3 linked regions of the Homo sapiens genome follow. The protein of the gene in region 1 purifies or fractionates together with the protein of each later gene. This does not show direct contact. Each region holds a gene or a part of one and is shown in the gene's direction. Other genes may lie near its edges.

What was found. Proteins that work in one complex are often made in the same cells at the same time.
Region 2: the proteins of HEXB (region 1) and LAMP1 purify together in Homo sapiens (affinity purification with mass spectrometry; 2 studies listed by BioGRID and IntAct, with this or other methods). This does not show direct contact.
Region 3: the proteins of HEXB (region 1) and SUGT1 purify together in Homo sapiens (affinity purification with mass spectrometry; 2 studies listed by BioGRID, with this or other methods). This does not show direct contact.

What each region holds. Positions count from the first base shown.
Region 1 is NC_000005.10:74,680,020-74,688,503, forward strand, and holds the start of HEXB (beta-hexosaminidase subunit beta isoform 1 preproprotein), read left to right. Parts: upstream 1-5,213; 5' UTR 5,214-5,241; coding exon 5,242-5,540; intron 5,541-8,484. UniProt on the Homo sapiens protein: Hydrolyzes the non-reducing end N-acetyl-D-hexosamine and/or sulfated N-acetyl-D-hexosamine of glycoconjugates, such as the oligosaccharide moieties from proteins and neutral glycolipids, or from certain mucopolysaccharides.
Region 2 is NC_000013.11:113,306,772-113,314,422, forward strand, and holds part of LAMP1 (lysosome-associated membrane glycoprotein 1 precursor), read left to right. Parts: intron 1-2,871; coding exon 2,872-3,091; intron 3,092-3,937; coding exon 3,938-4,096; intron 4,097-7,651. UniProt on the Homo sapiens protein: Lysosomal membrane glycoprotein which plays an important role in lysosome biogenesis, lysosomal pH regulation, autophagy and cholesterol homeostasis.
Region 3 is NC_000013.11:52,655,369-52,663,019, forward strand, and holds part of SUGT1 (protein SGT1 homolog), read left to right. Parts: intron 1-2,163; coding exon 2,164-2,254; intron 2,255-2,730; exon of another isoform or gene 2,731-2,839; coding exon of another isoform or gene 2,840-2,858; intron 2,859-3,030; coding exon 3,031-3,100; intron 3,101-3,810; coding exon 3,811-3,881; intron 3,882-6,106; coding exon of another isoform or gene 6,107-6,202; intron 6,203-7,280; coding exon 7,281-7,334; intron 7,335-7,651. UniProt on the Homo sapiens protein: May play a role in ubiquitination and subsequent proteasomal degradation of target proteins.

The sequences.
Region 1 (8,484 bases):
GAGCGTATCTTGAAGAGATGTGTGGAAGTGGCTTTTGTCTAATGGCATGAACTTCAGTAAGATTAACAAGGAACCAACACAGTCTTTAACAGCAGAAACACTGCCAGCATGAACTGAAAGGGATACTATCTTTCATGAAAAAGGAAGGATGACTCGCAAATCAGAACTGCCCACAAGGTGACATCAAGAGCCATAGGGAATTATTTTCAGTCTTTGAATCCGGATCAAGGAACTTCAACATTTGCCTGGCTGGATTTTGGAATTGCTACAGACTCGTTGTTGCCTCTCATTTTTCCCTTTTTGAACAGGAATGTTTACAGTGGTTATTTTACACCTGTCCACCACTGTATTTTTGTGTCGGGGAGGAGTGGGAGGCAGATAACTTGCATTTAGTTCACAGGTCTTCACACTAAGAGGAACTGTACTTGAAGAACTTTAAGGAACTGCATCCTAGGAATCTCACCCACACCTGGATGTAATTTATATGCTAACATTCTGGATTTCAAGCTGCTTTTCTAAAGGGATGAGATTTTTGGGGTTCTTGGGAGAAAGGGAATGTGTTTTGCATGGAAGAAATAGAAATAATTTGTGGTCAGAAAGTATACTCCTCCCTTCAAAAGGTGGAAGCTAATTCCCCTCCCCTTGAATGTGGGAAAAATAAAAGCAAGGGAAAAATAACAGCAGGTACACATGTTAGGATTCCATTTTGGGGATATTTAGCACACAGTGCACCCAGGTGGAGAAACTTGATTCAGATTCTGATTAGACTAGTAGGTTGATGGTCTTTAATTAAAGGTCTGATTTTACCCTATAGAAAGTAAAAATCCAGTGATGCATTTTAAGCAATGGTGTTACATGTTTAGAAAGGTCCTCAGGGAAACCAGATACCATACAAATGAATTCAGTGGAAACACATTTGCTGTAAATCCATAGTGGTCCACTTTTTCATATTTCAGTCATCTGGGGAAACTTTGTTTCAGCTCCATGTTGTTTCAATTCCATGCGTTAGCTTTAATTAGCTGTGGTATCGTGAGCAAACCATTTAGTTCTTCGGGGCCCTGGAGCCTCAACATAGTCCTCTAAAATGGGGACAATAAAACCTACCTCTTAAGTTGTTTGGGGATAAAATAAGAGGATGATAATAATATGTCTGGCACCTTGTTGTTGGTGAATAAGTTGTAGTGATTATTACTTAGACTAATGGAGCTCAACAAGGTGATATTTGGCAATATCTGGAGACATTTATGTTTTTTACCACTGAGGCTCAGGGGTTGGGGGTGGTGCTACTGACGACCAGTGAGTAGAGCCCAGTTGCTACTAAACATCACGTAATGCACAGGACAGCTCCCCAGAACAAAAAACCATCTAGCCAAAAATGTCACTAGTGCTGAGGTTGAGAAACCCTGATTTAAAATATAACCCAAGCTGGGTGTATTGGTATAGGCCTGTAGTACTAACTATTCAGGAGGCTGAGACATGATTGCTTGAGCCCAAGCCCAAGTCCACCCTGAGTAACATAGTGAGACCCCATTTCTAAAAAATAAAATCTAACCCAACCATGAGTATGTTAATATTGTTCCCGTGTTATAGCACCCTTTTAAATAATGAGTCAGAGTTAATAACGGGGTGCAATAAAAAAGAGATCTGATAGTTTCACAAGATCTCAGGGCTTGGTGAATGTAACTCCAAATCTTCCTGAAACCACCCTCCATCACCCTAATTCCTAAATGCCCACAGTCATTCCCACCGATAATTTATCTCTTCCTAGTCTTCTAGCCTTCAATTTCCTTGCATCTGAGATCCACTCTTAAACTCTTCGGTGACTTACTTCTAAGGAATATAATGTGGTAGCAGTGATGCATGTCACTTACAAGATTACGCTATATAAAGGCATTGTGGCTTCCTCTTTGCTGTCTTTCTCAGATCATTTGGTTGGGAGAAGCCAGCTGCTATATTGTGGGTATGGCAAGTAACTCAGGCTTTCAGCCAGTTGCCAGCAAGAAACTGAGATCTGTTGCCAACAGCCATGCAAGTTAACTTAGAAGTAGATCCTCCGGGGCTGGGTGCGGTGGCTCACGCCTGCAATCCCAGCACTTTGGGAGGCCGAGACGGGCAGATCATGAGATCAGGAGATCGAGACCATCCTGGCTAACACGGTGAAACCCCATCTCTACTAAAAATACAAAAAATTAGCCGGGCGTGGTGGCGGGCGCCTGTAGTCCCAGCTACGCCGGAGGCTGAGGCAGGAGAATGGCGTGAACCCGGGAGGCGGAGCTTGCAGTGAGCCGAGATGGCTCCACTGCGCCCCAGCCTGGGCGATAGAGCGAGACTCCGTCTCAAAAAAAACAAAACAAAACAAAAAAAAGAAGATCCTCCAGCACTAGCCAAGCCTAAAGAAAAAAACCTTCAGACAACTGCAACTTCATGAGATAATCTAATCCAGAATCACCCAGCTAAGACTCCTAAATTCCTGAACCACAAGAACTGTGAGATATTTATCTTATTATTTATCTGTTGTTGTTTTAAGCTCCTAAATCTTGGAGTAATTTGTGACACAGCAATAGATAGCTAGTATGCAATGTGAAGTTGTAATTAAGTATATAGTAATTGCAACAACATAAATTGATGATTGAATCTTGGAAACATTATGCCGTGCTTCCATTGACAGTAAAAAGTGGCAGTAAAGATGGATATTGCAAATTATATTTGTCTTAATTATAAGAATAGGGGAGAATAGTGTGCCACTGAAGTTTTCTTTTATGGAAGAATTTTAAACATGCACCATGTAGGGGTGGAAAGATGTGATACCTTTCCTCATCCATCATGAGTCATGGCTGACACTCTTATAACAAAAGAGCAGATTAACACAAGGAAAGCATAACAGATTTATTTAATCAGTTTTACATGACATGGGAGCCTTCAGAATGAAGGCTCAAAGACCCAGGAAAAGCTGCCTATTTTGATGTTTAGGTTTGATGCAGAGCAGACAGCCAGGCAGAAATGCGATTGGGCAAAAAGGATATGATCAACCTAATGGTAATAGAGAGGAGAAACCTGGCAAGATGTGTCTGTTCAAATTCTTCTTGGCCTCTCTGTGTGGTATTCCTTCCTCCAGGATACGGTGCAGGGCCACTCTGGAACAAAAGTCTTGAGAGCCACTATCAGACAAGGTAGGTCAGAGAACCTCTTTATGGCTGGCTCCTACAGAAAGACACGGCAAGATTAGAGTAATATTTCTAGATTTTATGACTGGCTTTGGGGGCATAGGGGCTCTAGTTTCTTCTTTTTTTTTTTTTCTTTCTGAGACAGAGTCTTACTCTGTGGCACAGGCTGGAGTGCAGTGGTGCAATCTCGGCTCACTGCAACCTCTGCCTCCCAGGTTCAAGTGATTCTTGTGCCTCAGCCACCCAAGTAGCTGGGATTACGGGCGTGTGCCAGCACATCCAGCTAATTTTTGTATTTTTAGTAGAGATGAGGTTTCACCATGTTGGCCAGGCTGGTCTCGAACTCCTGGCCTTAAGTGATCCACCTGCCTTGGCCTCCCAAAGTGCTGGGATTACAGGCGTGAGCCACCATGCCCAACAGTGGCTCTAGTTTCTGTGACCCATTTTGAAAAAGAGGAATTCTAGTTTCTATGGCTTGCTCTGGGGAAGAAAGGGGAGCAGGAGAAAGAAAGGCAGGAGAAGGTCAGAAAGATCTTCTGACTCTCTTTTCTTCAGTTCCAAGTATTCAACATGCCAAAGTGCCACACTTTGGGGTCTCATTTTCTGAGGCCCAATAATCATTACATTTCTTTTCTTTCTTTTTTTTTTTTTTTTAAGATGGAGTCTTGTTCTTGTTGCCCAGGCTGGAGTGCAGAGGTGTGATCTCAGCTCACTAAAACTTCCACCTTCCGGTTTCAAGCGATTCTCCTGCCTCAGGCTCCTGAGTAGCTGGGATTACAGGCGCCCGCCACCACGCCCAACTAATTTTTGTATTTTTAATAGAGACGGGGTTTCACTTTGGTGGCCAGGCTGGTCTCGAACTCCTGAACTTGTGATCCGCCCTCCTTCGCCTTCCAAAGTGCTGGGATTTCAGGCGTGAGCCGCCGCACCTGGCCTAATCATTACATTTCTTTGAAGTCTTTCCTTAAAGCTCTTCCACCCTCATTTTCAGAATACTTATATAGCAGATCTGTGGTTTTGGTCTGCCTAGCGTTTTCTCCTTCTGGTAAGAGAACACCTCTTCTCCCTTTGGCATCTCCAGTCCGTGTTCGTCATGTGACTTCACTGGCTCTTCCTTAGGGATGGGTTATGAAATCAAACTTGTCAGTTGGGATCCTTTATATCGGGACCCACACAGATGAGCCAAGATGTTCTCTCTCAGGATTCCTTGGGCATGCTCTGCCCCAGGGAGTTCTGATAGGAAGGCTTTATTGACCACAGCTGAAGTGCTGTTACAGAAAAGCCTAGACTTAGGAGCAAATAAACTCAGCTCTCATCTCGGTTATCTGGTGGTTGGGCTGAGAGGAGAAAGGTGCTCCTCAAGCTTGGCTTCTCCAGCTTCACCGAAGCCAGGGATCCACAGGAGAGCGCCCGTGTTGACAGCGTGAGCGGCGACCCGGTGTCGGCCTGGCGTCCCGAGCCTGTGCACTGGGCCGTTTTCTTTTTCTTTTCTTTTTTTTTTTTTTTTTTTTTGAGACGGAGTCTTGCTCTGTTACCCAGGCTGGAGTGCAGTGGTGCGATCTCGGCTCACTGCAACCTCCGCCTCCCGGGTTCAAGAGATTCTCCTGCCTCAGCCTCCCGAGTAGCTGGGACTACAGGCACCCGCCATCATGCTCGGCTAATTTTTGTATTTTTGTAGAGTCGGGGTTTCACCAATTTGGCCAGGCTGGTCTTGAACTCCTGACCTCAGGTGATCCGCCCGCCTCGGCCTCCCAAAGTGCTGGGGCTACAGGCGTGAGCCACCACGTACGGCCAGCACCGGGCATTTTTCTTACTTTAGCCATCCCGTGTTTGAGGTTGCTGTCTGGGCTCTGCTCCTACCCGAGGGCACCCCTGGAGGAAATTCTCGAGGTGACCTGGACAGGGCGGGCTGGGCGAGGACGCTCCCGGGGCCTGGAGGCGGAGTCGGGGGCGGGCGCGCGCAGTCATCTGACTCGGTGACTCACCCGCGGCCGCGCTTCCTCTGATCCGGGCCGGGCGGGAAGTCGGGTCCCGAGGCTCCGGCTCGGCAGACCGGGCGGAAAGCAGCCGAGCGGCCATGGAGCTGTGCGGGCTGGGGCTGCCCCGGCCGCCCATGCTGCTGGCGCTGCTGTTGGCGACACTGCTGGCGGCGATGTTGGCGCTGCTGACTCAGGTGGCGCTGGTGGTGCAGGTGGCGGAGGCGGCTCGGGCCCCGAGCGTCTCGGCCAAGCCGGGGCCGGCGCTGTGGCCCCTGCCGCTCTTGGTGAAGATGACCCCGAACCTGCTGCATCTCGCCCCGGAGAACTTCTACATCAGCCACAGCCCCAATTCCACGGCGGGCCCCTCCTGCACCCTGCTGGAGGAAGCGTTTCGACGGTGAGCGCTCCCGGCCCGGCCGGGAGTTGTCCTGGGGGAGGGGAGAGGCGGACCACCCCGGAGCGCTGTGCAGACCCTCACCACCCCACTGCGCAGACGAGAAACCGCCTGGGAGCTGGCAGGCGATCTGCCCAGCGCCACATGGACTGAACCCACGCTCTTGCCCCCACCCTCCTACTGCTTCTTAAGGGACACCTTGGGTGCTCAGGAACCCTGGTTTGAGAGCCGGATAGTAAGTGGAAGAGGGAGTTTGCTCTGAGGCCTTGTTGGGCAAATGGCATGGACGGAGGGGACACCGGAGCTGGGGAGGAAAGTGACAGCTCCTTATTTGAAGGACGTGCAAAGGGATAAGTTACCCGAAGGGCTTAGACAAGCTCTCTTGAGGGACCAGGAATCCCCCAAAGCTGACTGTCATTTATAGGCCAGTTTCGCCCCCTCACCTCTCCTCACATCTCCTGGTAACAGCTCAAATGGCAGAAGTCCTCAGTTTCGAGCACTGCCTAAAACTGCCCTCTCTCCTAAAATCTCTTCCATATAAAATGTGACATGTTTGCATCTGACTACGTTTCTGCGGTCAGTGGTTAGGCAGTATCCAACTTTGTTTCTCAACACCGATCATGTTGCCTGCTCTCCCTGCTTCCTCTTTTACAGACCCCTAGATAGCGCCTCTGTCTCTCTCACCCTTTGGCTGCAGACAGGGTGAGTTTTGTCATGGGAGTCAGCCAATCACACCATAGACAAGGCAGGTTCCCCTGGGGAGATGTTTGAAGACGCCACACACTGTCCCCTCAGTGTGAGACCTGTGTAGGTGGGACTGTCCTGAAGGCGTATCGTGCCCTGCAGAATTGTAATTTGGTGCTAACTGTACTGCCTCCTGGCATTCCCCAAGCCTGTCGCTGTACCCAGTGGATACTATAGAGCTTAAGTGTGCTTGCAGGACCCTGAACAGGTGGGGAGGGAATGTCAAACTAACTGAATAATGTGTTCTGACCCCAGATAGGACAGGTGCCTAGGCTCAAGCTGCAGAGGCCCAAGATGCTGATGGCAGAAATGGTTCATTCTCTACAATCAGAAGGCTCATGGTTTCCTTCTGTTTTGTACAACTAAATGGGTATTATCAGTCTCTATTTTAGACACACACACTAATGAGCCTTTGGTATCCAATCTGCTAAGGCCAGAGTGGGGTTAAGATGTAGAACCAAAGTGTTTGGTTGCATTGGGATATTCAGAAAGATTGCATGGAAAGTACATGAAGGTTGTCTCAGAAGATCATGACTAGGGTTGGAAATCTTTTTAAAAACAAACACGCTTATTATGTTTGCCTTGGAGTTCAGCTTGTAGAATTGGATTTTCCTTCTGTGTCATACTGCTAAGTAAAACAAGGACTTGGTAATATGCTGAACTGACTGTGACAAGAAAGCATGGGTGATGTAAGTTAACAATAGGTAGATAACCAGGACTTAAATCAGCTGAGATGGTTCGAAGGCAAGGCTTGGTATTTCAAGGCATGTGCGGGTGATTACCTGAAGAGTTTGCCTAACTCATGGCCTCTGAGTGAAGCAGCCATTAATTATGCCTGGTATTATTAGGAAGCAGGTCATAAAATGTGTTGGCCCTTATGGCTAAGACTTGAAGGCATGCATGTGAGCATTCTAGGAACTCAGAAGGAGCAGCAGGTATCTCAGAGTAAAAGCACAGTGGAGTTGGAAAGATTTGGAAATATGGGAGTGTTCACAAAGTGCGACGTGGTCAGGAACACACAGTCTAGGCCCCAGATTGTTCAGCATCACATAGCCCCTGTCTCTGAAGAGCCCAGGTTGTATCACAAACCTTGCTTTGAAACAGTATGCTTTTTGCAGGCAGAGAGTTTGGCTGTTAGATGCATAGCTGCTTCTTTAGCTTCTAGAACAGCGTTCATCACATGCTAGTCACTCATTTTTAAAAATAAACAAATAGCTTCACTCCTTCATTTCCTGGAAGGCTAAACTAACCCACATACCTTTGACATACTGCCTCACAGCCCTTTGAGTTTTCTGTTAGAATTTTACTACCTAGGGTCAAGGTTCTAAGCCAGCTTCCAACTCTGATCTCAAAGCTGCCAGCAGCTTTAATTTCTTTTTTAAAAAAATTTTAATTAAGGAAAAAATACACATAACATAAAATTTACCATCTTAACCTTTTGTAAGTATGTATTTCGGTGGTCTTAATTTCCTTTTTAATCTGTCAGGGTTTTCCTATGAGAAGGGCCCTCAACACCTACATCCATTCCATTCTCTCATTGGTTAACTTCCATACACTTCCAAACATGTCAGAATTTTCCGACCTCTTCTGCAAAAAAGCATAAGACGTTCTTACACATAAGTAGCATATATAACCTTCTGGCTTACCAAAATCTGTAAAATATTATTTAAACAGTTGCCCTGAAGCCTATCTGATCTTTTTTATTTAGTGCCTTTACATTTTTATTTAATATTCTGATTTTTGGATACCAAAAACAATTGCTCTGAAGCCTGTCTGATCTTTTTTATTTAATGCCTTTACATAATTTTTATTTAATGCCTTTACAGAATTTTTATGTATTTAACATTTAATGCCTTTACAATATTTAATGCCTTTACAGAATTTTTATTTAATATTCTCTGATTTTTGGATACCAACAAAAGGTACTTTTTTTGTATTTAATATTAATATTAATATTTAATGCCTTTACAATATTTAATGCCTTTACAGAATTTTTATTTAATATTCTCTGATTTTTGGATACCAACAAAAGGTACTTTTTTTTTTTTTGAGATGGAGTCTCGTTCTGTCACCCAGGCTGGAGTGCAGTGGTGCGATCTTGGCTCACTGCTGCAACCTCCACCTCCCGGGTCCAAGCAGTTCTCCTGCCTCAGCCTCCTGAGTAGCTGGGATTACAGGCGCCTGCCACCATACCCAGCTGATT
Region 2 (7,651 bases), on another chromosome or scaffold:
CCACAGGCACAGTAACAAACCTGTATATGTGCTGCACCTCACTGTTCATCATGAACATTTTCCTTTTTTTTTTTTTTTTTTTTTTTGAGACGGAGTCTCGCTCTGTCACCCAGGCTGGAGTGCAGTGGCGCGATCTCTGCTCACTGCAAGCTCCGCCTCCTGGGTTCATGCCATTCTCCTGCCTCAGCCTCCCCAGTAGCTGGGGCTACAGGCGCTCGCCACCACGCACAGCTAATATTTTGTATTTTTAGTAGAGATGGGGTTTCACTGTGTTAGCCTTGATGGTCTCAGTCTCCTGACCTCGTGATCCACCCGCCTTGGCCTCCCAAAGTGCTGGGATTACAGGTGTGAGCCACCGCGCCCAGCCTATCATCAACATTTTTCTAGTTTTCTTTTTTTTTTTTGAGATGGAATCTTGGTTTGTCGCCCAGGCTGGAGTGCAGTGGTACGATCTGAGCTCGCCACAACCTCCGTCTCCTGGGTTCAAGCAGTTCTCCTGCCTTAGCCTCCTGAGTAGCTGGGACTACAGGTGCCCACCACCACGCCTGGCTGATTTTTGTATTTTTGGTAGAGACGGGGTTTCACCATGTTGGCCAGGGTGGTCTCAAACTCCTGACCTCAAGTGATCTGCCTGCCTTGGCCTCCCAAAGTGTTGGAATTACAGGGGTGAGCCACCCCTCCCAGCTCTAGTTTTCTTCGTGATTGTCTTTTATAATCATAATGTAATACTTTATTATGTTAATTCACCATAATTTGTTACACACTCCCCTATTAGTAATTGGTAAGTTGTCTTGAATCTTTTTCATGCTCTGTGAATGTGGCTTTTTTGATTTAGAGAGTTATACTGCAAGAAATGTATATAAATGGTTGGTTGACATGCAATGCAAACACTGTACTAGTTTGATTAAAATGTTCCTTAGTGGTTTTGTTGAAATGGCTTTGTGTTTCTTTGGGATGACTAAAGCCTTTTGGAATAACAAAATATTTTAAAAATCCAAGACATAGTAAGATCTTATCTCTTTTTTAAAAAAAAAAAAAAAAGCCAGACATGGTGGAGTGTGCCTGTGGTCCCAGCTACTTGGGAGGCTGAGGTGGGAGGATTGCTTGAGCCTGTGAGGTCGAGGCTGCAGTGAGCTATGATCTTGCCACTGCACTCCAGCCTGGGTGACAGAGCGAGACCATCTCCAAAAAAAAAAAAAAAAAAAAAAAATCCAGTCTCAAATTATAAATACTTGTCAAAGCCTTTTTTCTTTTTTCTGAGACAGAGTTGCACTCTGTCCCCCAGGTGGCTGGAGTACAGTGCCAAGATCTCGGCTCACTGTGTCTTCCACCTCCCAGGTTTGAGTGAGTCTCGTGCCTCAGCCTCCTCAGTAGGTGGGACATCAGGTGCATGCCACCATGGCCAGCTAATTATTTGTATTTTTAGTAGAGACGGGGTTTTGCTATGTTGGCCAGGCTGGTCTTAAACTACTGGCCTCAAGTGATCTGCCCACCTTGGCCTCCCAAAGTGCTGGGATTACAGGTGTGAGCTACCGTACCTGGCCTCCAAGCACTTTTTTTTTTTTTTTTTTTTTTTTTGAGGCAGAGTTTTGCTCTTGTCACCCAGGCTGGAGTACAATGGCGCGTTCTTGGCTCACTGCAACCTCTGCCTCTTGGGTTCAAGCAATTCTTCTGCCTCAGCCTCCCAAGTAGCTAGGATTACAGGCATGCGCCCAGCTAATTTTTGTATTTTTAGTAGAGACAGGGATTCTCCATGTTGGTCAGGCTGGTCTCAAACTCCTGACCTCAGGTGATCTTCCCACGTCGGCCTCCCCAAGTGCTGGGATTACAGGCGTGGCCCAGCGTACCTGGTCTCCAAGCACTTTTTATTTAATTTCTACATCACTTTTTTAATGTTTGGTTTTGGTGGTTGGATTTTTTAAATATTCTATTATAAATTATGTTTCACAAGTGAGGTCACCTATATGCTGTTATGCACTTTGTTATTTCACAGAACATGTCTTTATCACCTTGTGTAGTTTCGTGTTGTTTTTTGGCCCACGTTAGTATACTGCTTCACTGTAGTTCATTTGACCTATCTAGTTTACTTTGATGAACATTAAGTGGTTTTCCAGTTGCTCGTTTTGCTTATAGTAGTAAATTTAAACATTTCTGCTATAAACACCTTCTTTGTTTAAAGAAACATTATTTAAATGAACATTTCTATAGTAAAAAAGTAGTGATAGCTTTTCTCAAATATATATCTCACCCTGAAGCTGGTGTGAATTGTTTCAATTTCAAGACGCTTTAAATTCTGTTATAAATTATATTAACATAAAATGAATTTATGGGGTTGTTTTGTTTTGTTTGGAGACAGAGTCTTGCTCTGTTGCCCAGGCTGGAGTGCAGTGGTGCAGTCGTAGTTCACTGCAGCCTCAAACCTAGGCTCAAGCAATCCTCCTGCCTCAGCCTCCTGAGTAGCTGGGACGACAGGCAGACACCACCATGTCTGATTAGTTTATTTTGTTTTTGTAGAGATGGGGTCTTGCTATGTTGCCCAGGCTGGTCTTGAACTCCTGGGCTCAAGCAATCCCCCCACCTCAGCCTCCCAGAGTGTTAGCATTACAGGTGTGAGCCACCATGCCCAGCTGCAAATTTTTGATTATATGAATTATTAAGCCAACTTTCTCTTACACCTGAAATACTTTTCAGTCTTTTACTGACATGTAATACTAACCTTTTTTTGGTTTATATTAAAAATGAGTACCTCAGTAGTGATATCTTAGTTGGAAATGAAGTATAAGTTTATATCAGACTTACAGAAAATCTCTTTCTTTGAACTTTTAATAACCTGCATCCCAATTGGGTTACATTTAATTGTGTTTATTCTAGAACATGACCTTTGACCTGCCATCAGATGCCACAGTGGTGCTCAACCGCAGCTCCTGTGGAAAAGAGAACACTTCTGACCCCAGTCTCGTGATTGCTTTTGGAAGAGGACATACACTCACTCTCAATTTCACGAGAAATGCAACACGTTACAGCGTCCAGCTCATGAGTTTTGTTTATAACTTGTCAGACACACACCTTTTCCCCAATGCGAGCTCCAAAGGTAAGAACCAAAATGGGCCGATTATGAAGTGATAGAAAATTGGGTTGGAGGATTGTCTAAAGTTACTTTTACCTAAGAAGTACAGGCTGGGTGTGGTGGCTCACACCTGTAATCCTAGCACTTTGGGAGGCTAAGGCAGACAGATCACTTGAGGTCAGGAGTTTGAGACCAGCCTGGCCAACATTGCGAAACACTGTCTCTACTAAAAATACTAAAATTAGCCAGGTGTGGTGGCGGGCACCTGTAATCCCAGCTACTCGGGAGGCTGAGGCAGGAGAATCGCTTGAACCCAGGAGGCAGAGGTTGCAGTGAGCCGAGATGGTGCCACTGCACTCCAGCCTAGGCGACCAAGTGAGACTGTCTCTAAAAAATAAAAAACACACAGCCAGGCGCGGTGGCTCACGCCTGTAATCCCAGCACTTTGGGAGGCCGAGGCGGGCAGATCATGAGGTCAGGAGTTCGAGACCAGCCTGATCAACATGGTGAAACCCCCTCTCTACTAAAAATACAAAAATTAGCTGGGCGTGGTGGCGCGCGCCTGTAGTCCCAGCTACTCAGGAGGTTGAGGCAAGAGAATCGCCTGAACCCAGAAGGCGGAGGTTGCAGTGAGCCGAGATCACGCCACTGTGCTCCAGCTTGGGCGACAGGGCGAGACTCTGTCTCAAAAAAAATAAAAAACACATAAAGTAAACTAAGTACTATAAGTAGTTTGCAATTGTGATTTTTTTTTTTTAATCTAGAAATCAAGACTGGAATCTATAACTGACATCAGGGCTAAAATAAAAAACACATAAACTAAGTACTGCAAGTAGTTTGCAATTGTGATTTTTTTTTTTTTTAATCTAGAAATCAAGACTGTGGAATCTATAACTGACATCAGGGCAGATATAGATAAAAAATACAGATGTGTTAGTGGCACCCAGGTCCACATGAACAACGTGACCGTAACGCTCCATGATGCCACCATCCAGGCGTACCTTTCCAACAGCAGCTTCAGCCGGGGAGGTAGGACGCTGACCCTTGGCCCTCTGGTGCTAGTGGTTGGGTAGCTGGGCTGCAGTGGCTGCGGGTGACCTCACTGCTCTGTGTCCTGGTGCTGGGCTCTGCCTGGAACGCGTGTGCACACAGCCGGCGACGTCTCTGCAGAACGTTCTCATCCTTCTTCCTAGGGCAGGTGACTTGTAGATGAGGGTAGACACATGTTGATTAAAAAGGGTGGAATATTGAAGTGAAATATCCCGGGACAGAGACAGATGTTGTGTGGTCTCCCGTGGGAGCTAAAGCAGTGGGAGTCGGCGGGGGGCGGGTAGAGAGAGAGGTGATCACCAGGGGCTGGGGTTAAGTTGGTCAGAAGATAGAGCGTTTCCGGAAGACAGGAGGAATTAGTACAGCATGTGACTGCAGTTAATAATGTATTCTGGCTTGAATATTGCTAAGTAGATTTTAACTCTTCTCACCATAAAAAAGTAAGTGTTTGATTTTAGCTGTCACACATGTAGGTGTATTTCAAAACATCCTGACACACATGGTAAACGTATACAATTATTACTTGAAAATGTCAGAAGGGCAAAGCAGTTGAAACCTTTGTGCTTCTACTGGGGCAGAGATGATGGGACCAGGGTCACAGATCTCTTGCAGTTTGAGCCAGTTGCCTTCACACAGAGACATAGTCTTATCTCCATCCAGCTCTGGCCGGCCAGCTTAGGGACAGGTGCAGAAAGACCAACGCTGCCTCTCTGAGGAGGTCAGGGCTGCGATGATGTACCTGCTAACCCAGCCGCCGGGCTCTGGGGTCAGGCAGGGTCCAGGCCACCTCCTAGCCCTGTGATCTTGAGCAGGGTAGTTTACCTCTCATTTTCTTTGCATGTGGCATGAGATTAAAAGCCTGTCTTCAAAGGTTGTTGGAATTAAAAGAGAAATGTATGCAAAATGTGTATCTCAGCATCTGGCACAGAGTTAAGTAGCAAGCACCTGGTAAATCCTGTTACTTTTGAGGAGCTTCTCTCCCGAGCCTCACAGTCCAGGTCATAGGTTGTTGTCATTTTGCTGAAGCGTGAGGGCCTGTGATTTGCCTTAGGGTGAGCTTTCCCGGCTGATAGAAATATGTATGGAGACATCCCTTAGGGTGGGCTTTCCTGGCTGCTAGAAATATATGGAGACATCACAGCCTTCTCTAATCTTGAGAGCTACTGTGGAGACCTTTGGTTTGCAACATTCCTCAGCAGTCTTGCTTAAAGGCTGAGGAGTGACTGCTGGGCTCCACAGGAGGATCGTCCGTCTCACTCCTCCCCGAGGAGCAGGTACTCTTGCAGGTCGGCACCCCATGGTGCTGGGCCGGTCTTGCCCACCTCCAATTTCCATACAGCCCATGAGCTAAGAACGGCTTTTCGATTTATAAATGTAACATACCAAAAATCAGAAAACGAATATTTCTTGACACATAAAGATTATGTAAAATTCAGTGTCCATAAGTTAAATTTTCTTGGAACACAGCCACACTCATTTATTTACACATTATCTGTGGCTGCTTTTGTATTAACAGTGGCAGGGCTGTGTTGTCTTGACAGAGAGCCACGGCCCACAAAGTCTGAAATATTTACTGTCTGTAGCTTTGCGGCAGACTTTGCCTTCCCTGGTGAGTGGGTGAAAAGGAGCCCAACTTGGAAACCCCGGGTGTGACTGGGACTTGATGGGGCCACGTGGGCTCCCATAGGGGAGGCTTGGAAGGAAACACACTTAGGAGCTGGGTCCTCTGTAGGTGCTGCTGCCTTTAATCCTCAACACAGGGCCCCGGGGGCCGTGGTGACAGCCGCTTTCCTGGTGCAGCCTCTGTTCACACGGAGCCTGGAGTCGTGTCTGCTTCATCAGGAAGAGCGGGCTAGAGTCCTCTCACATGGGCCGCGTGTGTCTGAGGACGGACGCCTGGCAGCCTGTCTAGGTGTGTTCATGCTCTCAGACACACCTCAGCCAGAGCTAAAGATAACTTCAGCTAGGGGCAGTGCTCCCTACCAAGTGGGAGTTAGCGTAACACATGGGGGTGACTAGTGTTCACGGTTATCGATTTCCAAATTATCTGGGCTCCACACCTAGCTGGCTACCTCTGGGCTGCATCAATGTGGCTTGAAGAGGAAAAGGAAGGGCACGCACTCTCTGTCAGAGCTTGGGAAATGAGAGAGAATTGGATGCTGACCTTGTCCGGGGACTCCCTACTGGCTAGGCCTGGACACGGTTGCAGAACGTGTCTCCTCCCCATGTCGCTCTGTGACCGAGGGGTGCGCATGGCATGACCGCTCACTCACTCCTGCCTGGAAGTGAAGGGCTGCTAGGTGGAGGTCAGCAAGGATGTTGAGTGCCCTGAGACGGGTGGCAGGATTCTCTAGATGAAAAATAAGGCTTCACAGGTCCAGAGAAGCTTGCTAGGTTCTTTTGAGAAACCTGTTTCTTCAGGTTAATAATTACTTTTAAGATAGACTATTTTTTAGAGCAGTCTTAGGTTTCTGTGTATTCTCTGCCGCTGCGCATGTACAGCCTTCCTCTGTGTCCAGATCCTGGACGTTGGTTCCTTTTTTAATGGAGAACACGCATGTGATTCCAAATGGAAAAAGGCCCGACAGCCCAGCCCTGGCCACTTGCCCCTCCTGGAGGCAGCCAGTGTGGAGATGCCAGTGTGCCTGGGGCGTGGCCTCCTAGAGGGAGTCAGTGTGGAGATGCCGGTGTGCCTGGGGCGTGGCCTCCTGGAGGGAACCAGTGTGGAGATGTCGGTGTGCCTGGGGTGTGGCCTCCTGGAGGGAGTCAGTGTGGAGATGCCCGTGTGCCTGGGGCATGGCCTCCTGGAGGGAACCAGTGTGGAGATGTCAGTGTGCCTGGGGTGTGGCCTCCTGGAGGGAGTCAGTGTGGAGATGCCCGTGTGCCTGGGGCATGGCCTCCTGGAGGGAACCAGTGTGGAGATGTCAGTGTGCCTGGGGCGTGGCCTCCTGGAGGGAGTCAGTGTGGAGATGCCCGTGTGCCTGGGGCATGGCCTCCTGGAGGGAACCAGCGTGGAGATGCCGGTGTGCCTGGGGCGTGGCCTCCTAGAGGGAGTCAGTGTGGAGATGCCCGTGTGCCTGGGGCGTGGCCTCCTGGAGGGAACCAGTGTGGAGATGCCCGTGTGCCTGGGGCGTGGCCTCCTAGAGGGAGTCAGTGTGGAGATGCCCGTGTGCCTGGGGCGTGGCCTCCTGGAGGGAACCAGTGTGGAGATGCCCGTGTGCCTGGGGCGTGGCCTCCCGGAGGGAGTCAGTGTGGAGATGCCCGTGTGCCTGGGGCGTGGCCTACTAGAGGGAGTCAGTGTGGAGATGCCCGTGTGCCTGGGGCGTGGCCTCCTGGAGGGAACCAGTGCGGAGATGTCGGTGTGCCTGGGGCGTGGCCTCCCGGAGGGAGTCAGTGTGGAGATGTCGGTGTGCCTGGGGCGTGGCCTCCTGGAGGGAGCCAGTGCGGAGATGCCCGTGTGCCTGGGGCGGGGCCTCCTGGAGGGAACCAGCGTGGAGATGCCCATGTGCCTGGGGCGTGGCCTCCTAGAGGGAG
Region 3 (7,651 bases), on another chromosome or scaffold:
TTCAGTTTTATCATATGATTATGGAGATCCGTCAAGAATTTGGAGGAAGGAAAATGAAATTTTCTGAATTACAAAACCTACTTTAAAAGCAGAGTAGATAGCGAATTGGAGGAGGCACAAGGGATAGTGGATAGCAGGAAGATGGTAGTGCAGACCGGGTCAAAGATGAATATTTGCATGTAGGGCAGTGATTGAGGGCATGGAGGTGAGTTGTTTTATGTAAAATGCACCGGACTTGGTGACGATTAGAATATAAGGGATGTCTCCTGAGTTTCTGGCTGGGGGAATGTTGTAGGAACTGGTGCCATTCATTTAGATAGCACTTAGGATGATAGCACTTAGAAGATTGCCTTCAGCATGGGGGAATAGGTTTGAGGATAGAAAGTAGTTTTAGATTGTGAATATTTGTATATGAGTTGCCTCTGGGACATTTCAGGTAAAGTTTAGAGAAAACTATATGCTGATGTTGCCCAGGACCACTGTCTAGGCTCAAGATAGACTTGAGTCATCAGCATGCATCAACACATATGTGAAGCCCCCCAGTAGTTAAGGAATCAAAGAATGTTTGTAGAGGGGAAGAAGTCTTAAGTACTGAGCCCAAGGAGAACATTAGTTTTTAAGAGGCAGCAGAATGGTAAGCTGAAAGGCCTGGTTATTATTGTCAAGGGCCACAGAGAGATCAAGTCAGATAGGAATCAGTTGGATTTTATAAGGGGTTATTAGTGACTTTGAGAAGATTAAGACTAGAGAGGCAAATATTTTTGTATTCTATGGCAAAGGAGATGCAGTCAAAGTAGAGACTGGGGAAAAGGCTGAAAAAAGTCTGCAAGAAGAAAAATCAATACTTTTCATTGAGTGATTACTGGATGTCACATACAGATCTAGGCAAGCCCAACACCCTGGAGTCATCTTCAGTTTCTCTTATCCCACATGTTCACCCATTAGCAAGTCTCTCTGCTTCTAATATGTTCCAACTTAATCGTATTTCTTTTCATCACCTCTGTGGCTAACATCCTTTTCTAGCCTAGACTTAATGTAATAGTTTCCTAAGAAGTCTCCGTTTCCAGTCTTGATTTGATAATGTATTTACCATACTGCAGCCAGAATGACATTAAAAAAAAGTAAATTGGACCATGTTCCCCTTACTAACAGTGAACTTTCCATGGCTTTCCATCAAACGTAAGGTCCAAATTCCTTATAACTGCCTGCAAGCTACAAAGTGAGGCCCTTAAAGTAGCATCTTACAGCTTCTTTGCTCTCTTGATTTGAGCCTTACTTTCTGTTGATTGACTGTAACCCCATGTGAGTTGAGGAGCATCTGTATATGTTGCTTTCTGAGAGTCACACTACTAGGTTAAAGCAAAGTCAATGATACATGTGGCTCTTGAAATAATTTTACCATTTAAGAAAACTACCAAATCCCTAGAGTTTGTAGGCAGTTGGCAGAAAATAAAAGTGTTCCTGCACTTGTCTTTGATCTCCCTAATTGTGTAATCTCTTACATCATTATTTTTCCAGCTACCACACCTATATGTTGTGACTGCACAAGTTAAAAAAGTTTCAATCTCTAATGTTAACTCTTGGTAGTTGACATAGCCATCTATTAGATTGTATCTGGGCTTTGAACAGAATATTTAGTTGGGTTTTATTAGAGTTGTGTGCTATTGTTAGAGGCTAGGAGAGGGCCAGGTACACTTGATTGTGTATGTATTGATTGTCTTAACCTCCCTGAGTGCTAGATTTAACTTCTGGTCTTTTTTTATTGCACAGCTTAACATTTTCTAGGAATCTCAAATTCTATATGGTGTTTGAATCTTCTTCAAATTAGTAGGAGGAAATCTGTAATGGTCAATGTGTAACAATTAAACTCTTCAGAATATATGAGCTGATAATAATGATCATTTATTAAGTTCTATAGACCAGGAACTAAAAGCTTTACGGTACAGAGATGCTACATTAGATTGCCTACTTTTGGGAGGAGGGGCAAGAGAAGTGGGGGAGATATTGATCCTTTTATAAGGAAAAACTCCAATATTATATCCGTGTTATCTTTCCTCCAAATAGCTTCTGACAATAAGTTACTTGATTAAAAATTATGTTTTAATTAGAATTTGATGGCTTCTTACAAACTTTTACTGACGCTCCACATGTTTGTTTTTGTAGGAGCTGACTAAGGCTTTGGAACAGAAACCAGATGATGCACAGTATTATTGTCAAAGAGCTTATTGTCACATTCTTCTTGGGAATTACTGTGGTAACGTTTCTTATAAAGTATATTGCCCCCTTTTAATAAGTTACTTATACATTTTACCCATGACAAATTAAAAGTTGTCTTTGAGAATTTTTAAATTGGTCTTTTATACAAGGTAAAGTAGCTCAAATGTGACAGACATGTTGAGCAACACCCATTTAAATTTTATGGATGTCGCTTTTTCCTTCATTGGGTGGAGAATGTATACAGATTTCATTCATAGTTATTGGGTATGCTGATAAAAAATAGCATCACATTTACTATTTGACAGACTATTAAAATGAAATGCTCGTTTAAATTTTTTTTATAAAAAAGAATGTGGCCAGGCATGGTGGCTCACGCCTGTAATCCCAACACTTTGGGAGACCAAAGCAGGAGGATCATTTGAGCCCAGGAGTTCAAGACCAGCCTGGGCAACATAACAAGACCACCTGTATTTAAAAAGTAATGTATTTCTGTATTTTGTACCTTCTGAATAGGGAAAAACTGAATACCTTGAGTAAAATTACATAGAAAATGTTAATGAGACAAGGAGGTGAATTTTGTGACACAGCTGTATTCATTGAAGAGCTTTAAGAAGGAAGCTAAATGTTAAGCCAAAAGGAAGGTACAAGAGTAATATTTATTTGAATTCTATCTTGTATTAGCTTTTCCTAATTTAAAACCATTTGGCATTTCTACCAACTTGAAAACTTAGAAATCTAAAACTGATTCATATGTTGTGTGTATTTGCTAGGATCTATAAATAACTGACTAAAAACCCGTCTTTTTCTACACAGTTGCTGTTGCTGATGCAAAGAAGTCTCTAGAACTCAATCCAAATAATTCCACTGCTATGCTGAGAAAAGGGTATGCAGTAGCTACTCTTCTTGTTGAGCTTGGTATAGATAGTAGGTATTTAATTTGTTGAATGAGTTCATTGCAAGCTTTATATAAGTTGTAAAATTCTGTATTTATACATTATATAGCAGAGATATGATTCAATTTTAAATACAACTTATAGTTCTATTATTTTGTTAACCAAAGTATGTGATAGGAGATCTGTACTTAGTAAATTTTAAAATAGTGATGATTGAAGTATTTGCAAGGTATAGATGAAACTGATAGATTTCACATTGCTTTTTTTTTTTTTTTTTTCAATCTTTTGGAATTTACTATATTTAATTGACTGGACAACATCCTATTCAGCAAAGCTGAATAGGCTACATTTAATGCTATGAAAGCGCTATATCTGTATACTTTATATCCCATCTTGTTTCTGTTGATAAGTATAACTATTCTTTAAGAAACTTCTTTAATTCCTTTGTATAATTATATTTTTGAGTAAGCAAGTCTGTACAATTAAAGTCAGATTCCTTCTGAAGTGAGTTCTAAAATTGAATTTTAGTAGGAATTGTACTAGATCTTAACAGTATATTAGAAAGTCTCTAGGTTTATTAACATACACTTAAAATAAATTTTTTCTTTCAACAGTAGAAAATACTAAGTTTTTTATTTAGAAAGAAGGTATTTTCCAGATTTTTTGTGTGTCTTAATTTGTTTTAAATATATTCATGCAGAATATGTGAATACCATGAAAAAAACTATGCTGCTGCCCTAGAAACTTTTACAGAAGGACAAAAATTAGATAGTAAGTATTAAAAATTATACTTTAATAAACTTATCTATTTCTGTCTTAAATACCAAAGCTGAATTTTGGTAATGTTAATTTCAAGTTAATTGTAGAAACCCAATACCTGTTTTTCTCATCTAAATTATATTTCATATTGATTGCAGATATGAGATCACTTAAAATCGATTAAATTAGCCTTTTGGCATTTAAATCATAGATGAACTTCACCATTAGAAGTAAAAAAAACTATGGAAACACCTAACATGCTCTCTCTGTTTAGTCTGGCTTTGTTTTTTTCTAATGGAGAAGTGAAAGTTTAATTTGCCTTGGTCAGAAGTCTGTTCATTTTAAATTATTCAGATTGCTGAGATGTGAAATCTTAACATTAAAGGTTTTTATGGAGAAGTGAAGTGTACGTTTGGGTAAATTATGAGAGGGTACAGAAGAAACACAGTTTTGAGAGTATTGTGACTTTTAATGTTATATTCTTGAGGGAATATATGAAAAGTATCACAGTGGTGTGGATATCTAGACATATAGAAATTGTGAGAGTCAAGAATATATATATATATATATATATATATTTTTTTTTTTTTTTTTTTTTTTTTTTTTTTTGAGACGGAGTCTCACTCTGTCGCCCAGGCTGGAGTGCAGTGGCGCGATCTCGACTCACTGCAAGCTCTGCCTCCCGGGTTCACGCCATTCTTCTGCCTCAGCCCCCCGAGTAGCTGGGACTACAGGCGACCACCACCACGCCCGGCCAATTTTTTTGTATTTTTAGTAGAGATGGGGTTTCACCATGTTAGCCAGGATGGTCTCAATCTCCTGACCTTGTGATCCACCCTCCTCGGCCTCCCAAAGTGCTGGGATTACAGGCATGAGCCACTGCACCCAGCCGAGAGCCAAGAATTTTTAAATCTGAAAAATACTAAGAGGTTGTGAGTAATTTCAGAAAATTGGAGACTACATAATCCTACTTGTATTATCATTTTATCTTTATGTTATGATAGAGTTTTATCACAGTTCTCTAAAGAAGTGGTTCTTAACTGGAAACGGTTTTGCTTCCCAGGAAACTTTATGCAATGTCTGAAGAGATTTTTGATAATCATGAATGGTGGATGGGGGTTGTGCTACTGACATCTAATGAGTATAAACCAGGGGTGCTACTAAATATTCTATAATGCCCAGGACAGTTCTGCCTAACAAAGAAGTATATGGTCCAAAATGTCAGTAGTGCTGAAATTAAGAAACTTCACTCTTAGTATTTTATGTTACATTCTTACTCTGTACTGTTTTGAATGTTTGCCTTTCTGTTGTGTACCTATTCAGAAAAAAGGATTTTAGCACTGATTATGCAAATGGAAGCTACAAATTAAAAAAGGAGAGGTCTGGGTGATAAGGCTTATTCTCAAACTTGCTTATCCCAGTTTTGGTATGTGAATAGTAGGCCTATTCAGTCAGCAAACAGGACATCTGCACTCTTAGCAAATTCTAGAGTGAAGTTATGTAGTGCCTTGGTACCTAATGTGAAAATCCTGAAGAAACATGAGTCATACCATTCTCTACATTTTCATTTTTCTTTCTTTTTTTAGCGAGAGAAGGTCTCGCTCTGTCGCCCAGGCTGGAGTGCAGTGGTGCGATCTTGGGTCACTGCAGCCTCCACCTCTTGGGCTCAAGTGATCCTCCCACCTCAGCCTCCTGAGTAACTGGGGCTACAGGCACATGCCACCACACCTGACTAATTTTTGCATTTTATTTTTTGCAGAGATGGGGATTTGCCATGTTGCCCAGGCTGGTCTTGAACTCCTGGACTCAAGCGTTCTGCCTGCCTCGGCCTCTGAAAGTGCTGGGGTTACAGGCATGAGCCACTGCGTCTGGCCCCTAGATTATTTTCTTGAGTAATATCTTAATATCATGCCATTGACATTTATTCTTTAGTTATTTCAGAGGTGGCCTTCAGAGGAAGACCTGTTTGGTAAAATTGCTGTTGAGGATATTTTACTTAAAAATAAATTTGTCTTTAAATCCAGGAAACTTTTTTTGTTGTTGTTTTTTGGGGTTTTTTTTTGTTTTTGTTTGTTTGTTTGTTTGTTTCTTTTTTTGAGACTGAGTCTCACTGTGTTGTCCAGGCCATAGTGCAGTTCTCTGTCTCTCAAGTTCAGGTGATTCTCCTGCCTCAACCTCCTGAGCAGCTGGGACTACAGGCATGCACCACCAAGCCTGGCTAATTTTTGTATTTTTAGTAGAGACGGGGTTTCATCGTGTTGGCCAGGCTGGTCTCCAACTCTTGACCTCAAGTGATCCACCTGCCTTGGACTCCCAAAGTGCTGGGATTACAGGTATGAGCCACCATGCCCGGCCAAAATCTGGGAAAAAGTTAAGTTAAACTTTTAGGCTTCTATTTTTATCAGACAGGGTAAAGAATTGTTACCTTTTCCCCTCTTTGTGTGATAAATTGCTTGGTTTTAGTTACTGATTACTTAAAATAATAGGTTACTCAAATCTTTTTGATATAATAGATTTTGATACAATAGTTCTCTAGAATACAGTGTGTGTGAGAGTGTATTTAAATTTTTTATTAATGCTGGTATAGTTGGATTTCTTTTATAAATTAGTAAAGTAGAAATTTTTGTTAAGAAATTTTTAATTTAAGATTTTCAAATTTATCTTGTCTGCAGTTAACTTGAATTAATAAGCTCTTATTTAGAGTACTTTTAATACTTTTAACATATCTTACTATGCACTGTGACTGTTTAAATGTAATCATTGTTCTGTGTCTCCAGAAGTGAATAATTTGTTTATGCATACATTTACACTGTTATCTATAAATATATAATACATCACCTATAGCCTCTCGACTGCCATGTAACTTGGAGATAGGACAAAACTTCACGGAATTTAAAGATGCTTGGTGTTGGTAGGAAAGGCATGGTAACAGATAAAGCCACTGAGAGAATAGTGGACTGAATAGGTATCTGCATTGAAGAGCAAGCTGGGGCTGGGAACGGCTTTTGAACCTCAACTCAGCTCCCAGTTACCAAGCCTCCTCCCCACCCTAACTGATGGCATATTGGGAGTCTGATTTACATCTGATTTTGTTCTGTGTGTGAGGAAGCTTCTCTAAGAGCAGCGGGATTGGGGGAAATGCAGATTATTTGTATCTGTGAAATTAAGGTTGACTGTAGTTAAAATTTTTAAAAAATCAAAATGTTTCATGATTAACAACTAAATGTTAAACTATTGGTATATTTATAACTATAGTAGAGTTGGTGATAAGGTCTGTTAAGACAGGTTTTGTTCGCTGCCGACTCCCCAGTGCCTAGAACACTGCCTGGGATGTAGTAGGTATTCAGTAAGTATTTGTTGATTTATAGGTTGTGCAGATGAGTGATGTTATAGTCAGTTTTTTCTTTCTAGGTGCAGATGCTAATTTCAGTGTCTGGATTAAAAGGTGTCAAGAAGCTCAGAATGGTATGTGGGTCTCCCTTGGTATTTGTTTCAATTTAAAAAGAAGTAAACATCTGAAATTTTTTTGGTTTAAACAAATTTGTTTTTATCTTTATAATTTCTTTTAAATAGTATACGTTTCCTTAGATGTGGACTTCCAAAGATACACTGGTTTTTGCATAGCTTCTTATGTTGAAAGGGGGATTTGGGTGGATTTGCTTGTATGGTATATCAGTAAGAAATTACTAAGGAGTCTAAAATGAATTCAGGATGCAAAATGAAACCACTTTTCTTTAGTTGAAAGGTACGGAGAATTTGCTTGCTTAATCAGTATGTTTGTG